2 separate regions of the Homo sapiens genome follow, and region 1 is linked to region 2. The links come from fine-mapping of genetic effects on gene expression. Tissue or cell type: whole blood. Region 2 holds a variant in brackets; the other region holds the start of a gene. All regions are shown on one strand. Distances are between the middles of the regions.

Region 1 (2,607 bases), 21 kb before region 2:
GGAGAGAGTGTCAGAGACAGAGAGACAGACACAGAGATAACAGAGCCAGAGATAGGGAGAGTCAGAGACAGAGAGAAAGAGACAGACAGACATAGATAAAAGAGCCAGAGACAGGGAGAGAGACACAGAGACAGAGACATAGAGACAGAGATAACAGAGCCAGAGACAGAGTCAGAGACAGAGACAGAGAGAGCCAGACACAGAGACAGAGAGAGAGAGTCACAGCCAGAGACAGCGACAGAGATAACAGAAGCAGAGAGAGGGAGAAAGATAACAGAGCCAGAGACAGTCAGAGACAGAGATAGAGAGACAGAGATAACAGAGCCAGAGACAGATACAGAGACAGAGATAACGGAGCCAGAGATAGGGAGAGAGAGTCAGAGACAGAGAGAGATATATAGACAGAGATAACAGAGCCAGACATGGGGAGAGAGAGTCAGAGGCAGAGAGAGAGAAGACAGATAGAGAGACAGAGCCAGTGATAACAGAGCCAGAGACAGGGAGAGAGAGTCAGAGAGAGATACAATGAGAGACAGAGATAACAGCCAGAGACAGAGTTAGACAGAGAGATACAGAGACAGAGATAACAGAGCCAGAGACAGGGAGAGAGAATTAGAGACAGAGATAGAGAGAGACAGAGACAGAGATAATACAGGCACAGAGGCACGCATAGACATAAATTGGCAGAGAGAGAGAAAGATCTCTTTCCACCCACTGCAGAGGCAATCAACAGAGACAGAGAAAGACGTTAACGGGGAGACACAGAGAGCAAAGGAGACTGAGTCAGCAAGAGACCCACAGAGATACCGGGAAAGAGCGGCAGAGAGGGAGAACCAGGGCGATGGAGAGACAGCAGGGAGAAAGGAACCTGGAGCCGAGCTTGGAAGGCCGGAAACGGAAAGGAGAGCGAAAAGCGGAGAGAGATCCGAGTGGAGAAAATTCCGCAGAGTCACGGGGACGAGGGGAAAGGCTCTGGGCTGGGAAGGGGCGTGGCCGCGGGCGGAGGGGCGTGGCCGCGGGCGGAGGGGCGTGGCCTCCTTTTGTAGCCAAGCAGCTATAAAAAGCGGCGCGCTGTGTCTTCCCGCAGTCTCTCGTCATGGAATACGCCTCTGACGCTTCACTGGACCCCGAAGCCCCGTGGCCTCCCGCGCCCCGCGCTCGCGCCTGCCGCGTACTGCCTTGGGCCCTGGTCGCGGGGCTGCTGCTGCTGCTGCTGCTCGCTGCCGCCTGCGCCGTCTTCCTCGCCTGCCCCTGGGCCGTGTCCGGGGCTCGCGCCTCGCCCGGCTCCGCGGCCAGCCCGAGACTCCGCGAGGGTCCCGAGCTTTCGCCCGACGATCCCGCCGGCCTCTTGGACCTGCGGCAGGTGAGACGTGCCCCGACCCTCGGTAGCTGGTCTCGCGGGAGACCCCTACCGCCCCTCTGGGACTCCCTTCTCCCTCCCGCACCCCCAGGGACACCTGTTCTACACTCCCGGCCGGGGAGAGGAGACCCACCGGGGCTCCCATTCTCCATCTAGCACCGAGGCCGGGGGGGCACACCTTTCATCCCGCACCCCTACGACACCTCATCTGTACCCCAGGCCGGGGGCGGGGAGGAGACCGCCCAACAGTTCTTTTTGGACCCCCCAAGGGTCTCCTTCTTCTAGTCCGGGGGGCACCCCTTTCATCCTGCGCCCGCTACGAGACCCTATCTGTATCCCGGGAGGGGGAGAGGAGACCCCCACAAGTTCTTTTTGGACCTCCAAGGGCTCTCCTTCTCCGTCTTGCACGGGAGGGCACCCCTTTCATTCCGCATCCCGAGACCCCATCAGCACCCCAGGCCAGGAGGAGGAGACCCCCACAGTCCTCAACCCCTCAGGGATACGTCTTCTGCACCCCGGGTCGGAGAAAGGCTGGCTTCCCTCCATGTGGCAGTGGGTGGGGGCACCCCTCTTCATTCCGCATTCCCAAGGCACCCCATCTGCACCCTGGACGGGGGACCCTCCGCGGTTCTCCAACCCTCGACGGCTTCCTTTCTCTATGTAGGACTTAGGACATTGAGGGCACCTCTTTTTACCCCGCACCCCCACAAGCTCTGCATCTCTGGGGGGAACCTTTTTTCCATCCCCGATCCGAGGGGGGCACTTCCTCTTTATCTGGGACCGCCAAGGAGACCCCCAGTTCCTTTGCTAACTCCCAAAGAGCCTTATCCCCAACATCTGAGGTACCCCTCTCCCTTTCAAGACCCCCAGGGGAATACCCCCAAGGGGGCTGGAAAGAAGAGGGATCGCTTTTCCCTCCTGAATTCTTGGAGATCTGTCCTTGGGGCAGGTTGAGCCACCAGCTTCGTGTGTGTGTGTGTGTGTGTGTGTGTGTGTGTTCGTGTTTGTGTGGGTGTTTGTGTTCGTGTGTGTGTGTTCGTGTGGGGGTGCGTATGTGTGTGTGTTCGTGGGTGTGTTTGTGTTCGTGTGGGTGTGTGTTCGTGTGGGTGTTTGTGTTTGTTCGTTCGTGTGGGTGTTTGTGTTCATGTGGGTGTGTTTGGATATTTGTGTTCGTGTGTGTCTGTGTGTGTTCGTGTGGGTGTTTGTGTGTGTTTGTGTTTGCGTTCGTGTGTGTGTTCGTGTTTGTT
Region 2 (2,757 bases):
GAATCTGGGAGGTGGAGGTTGCAGTGAGCCAAGATTGTGCCACTGCACTCCAGCCCAGGCGACAGAGCAAGACTCCCTCTCAAAAAGAAAAAAAAAAAAAAAGGCTTACGTAATACTGTTACAGAATCTTTAGGGTGTCACATTTCTGGTCGGAAATATCTGTGTCCCCTGGCACCTTTGCCAGAGTTCTTGTCTTGTGTCCAGGAAGAATGAGTTACACAGGGAAGTGGAGGGTGAACAGGATGAAGAGGAGTTTTATTGAGTGTTAGAACAGCTCAGAGAAGACCAAAGTGGGCAGCTCCTCTCTGTAGACAGTTCATTCCATTGAGTGCTCAGCTCTCAGCAGAGAGGAGACCCCAGAGAGGGTAGTTCCTCTCTGGTCCTCCTGATGGCTGCAGGTCTCAGCAGAGAGGAGGCCTTGGAGAGGGTGGCTTCTCTCTGCCCAGCAGGTCATCCCATCCTCACTGCAGCTTTCAGCAGAGAGTGTAGCTCCTTTCTGCAGCTGGTCGTCAGGTCATCTCCAGCTATTAGCACAGAGAGTGGCTTCTCTCTGCAGCTGGTCATCTGGACGTCTCTCTTTTTCTCTGCCCTGCTCTGGCTGAGCCTGGGGCTTTTATGGACCTCAGAGGGGATGCAGTGTGTGCCGACTGGTCCATTAACAGCCATGCATGGGCCTGGAAAAGGCATCACAAGTCCCCACTCTGGTCCACAGGTCTGGTGGCCCTCAGCCTTCAGGCCCTCCCTGGCCTGAAGGTGGGGTCTTAGCGAGGACTTGCTCCCTTCTGCCAGGAATCAGTCTGCCTCCTGCTGCCGTTCATGGCCCCAGGTTGGACCCTGACTTTGCTCCAAGATCAGAGCAGGCGCTGAGAGCAGGGAGAAACCAGGCAGTGGGAGCAGGTGCTTTGGAGCCTGCAAGGGCAGGGGGGCCTCCCTGGCCCCCCAAGAGCACAGGGAGGCTTGAATCTGCGGCCACAACTTGGGCGGCTGCAGAGGCCCAGGATGCAGCTTCAGGTGCTCCCCCTTGCAAGCTGGGGCGGGGATTCCTGATCCTTGCCGGGCCTGGGCTGGCGCCCAGGGCAGGGGCAATATCACCACGAACTGCCCCTGTTGCCCCGGCACTCAGGGGCAGCCTGTGGGGAGCTGATCCTGGCCCCAGCCTGGCCACGGGGAGTGGCAGGCTTGGTGGTCGCTCTGATGCGGGGTGGACCCCAAGAACACGGCTGGCAAGCCCTGCACAGAGCCTC[C/T]TCCTGATGCCTAGGAACCCTGAACCCTCTGCGGGGTGGGTGCAGTGGCTGCGCGGCTGGCTAGTCCCCAAAGAGGGCGCTGCTCCCTCTTCCTGCCCCCGCCCCCAAAGCACGGCCCCAGCTCCACATCCGGGCCCCTCTCTGCCCGACCGCGCTGCTCCAGCAGGGCGTGGGCTCCAGAGGGCTGTGGGCTGCGTGGCCGGGGAGCTGTCAGCCTCCTCCCTGGGCCCTCCCTGCAGCAGCCATGTGATGGCAGCAGCCAGACAGCCCACCACAGCCATCAATACCACACGAATTTTCACAATAAGCTGGACAAACTTTCCCTGGTGGAAAAATTAGTCTGTGGCCGGGTGTGGCTGGCCCTGGCTCTCCCAGGAGGTTTTCATGACGTAACCTGCCAATTTGATAAATCTCTGCCTCATAGAGTCACAAACGTTCTTCTCTAGATGAGAAGTTCTCCATGATTCCATAAATATAAATTTTAAAAAATTTAACCTGGGGCCGGGCGCGGTGGCTCATGCCTGTAATCCCAGCACTTTGGGAGGCGGAGGTGGGTGGATCACCTGAGGTCAGGAGTTCAAGACCAGCCTGGCCAACATGGTGAAACCCTTGTCTCTACTAAGAATACAAAAATTAGCTGGGCGTGGTGGTGTGTGCCTGTAATTCCAGCTACCCAGGAGGCTGAGGCAGGAGAATCGCTGGAACCTGGGATGCGGAGGTTGCAGTGAGCCAAGATCACGCCACTGCACTCCAGCCTGGGTGACAGAGCAAGACCCCGTCTCAAAAAACAAAACAAAACAAAACAAAAAAAACAAAAACTAACTTTAAGTTCAGGGGTACATGTGCAGGTTTGTTATATGGGTAAACCTGTGTCATGCGGGTTTGTTTTACAGGTTATTTCACCCAGGTGCTAAGCCTAGTATCCATTAGCTATTTTTCCTGATCCTCTTCCTCCCCCAACCCTCCACCGTCTGATAGGCCCCAGTGTGTGTTGTTCTCCTCTATGTGTCCATGTGTTCTTATCATTTAGCTCCCACTTATAAGTGAGAACATGCAGTATTTGTTTTTCTGATCCTGCGTTAGTTTTCTAGGGATAATGGCCTCTAGCTCCATCCATGTTCCTGCAAATGACATGATCTCGTTCTTTTTTATGGTGCATAGTATTCCGTGGTGTATATGTACCATATTTTCTTTATCCATTCTACCATTGATGGCCATTTAGGTTGGTTCCACGTCTTTGCTATTGAGAATATGCTGCAATGAATATATGCATGCACGTGTCTTTATAATAGAATGATTTATATTCCTTTGGGTTTACACCTAGCAGTGGGATTGCTGGACTGAATGGTAGTTCTGTGTTTAGGTCTTTGAGGAATCCTCACACTGTTTTCCACAATAGTGGAGCTAATTTACATTCCCACCAACAGTGTAAAAGCGTTCCTTTTCTTAGAAGACAATACCTTTTTTTGTTGTTGTTGTTGTTGAGACGGAGTCTCCCTCTGTTGCCCAGGCT

Evidence for each region. PIP is the estimated chance that this variant, and not a neighbour inherited with it, causes the effect.
Region 1: it holds the start of TNFSF9, and the variant in region 2 is fine-mapped to the expression of TNFSF9 in whole blood (TOPMed, PIP above 0.99).

What each region holds. Positions count from the first base shown.
Region 1 is chr19:6,529,941-6,532,547 of GRCh38, forward strand. It overlaps TNFSF9 (TNF superfamily member 9), which reads left to right and starts at 1,086. Exons shown (of 3, transcript NM_003811.4): 1 at 1,086-1,363. The coding sequence starts at 1,097. RefSeq lists silencers at 914-1,143, 1,284-1,353 and enhancers at 1,764-1,863, 2,465-2,607.
Region 2 is chr19:6,550,743-6,553,499 of GRCh38, forward strand. No RefSeq gene overlaps it. Among named protein-coding and RNA genes, the nearest start is that of TNFSF9, 21 kb to the left of the region's middle. RefSeq lists an enhancer at 1,155-1,224. The variant C/T (reference allele first, on the strand shown) is at 1,245.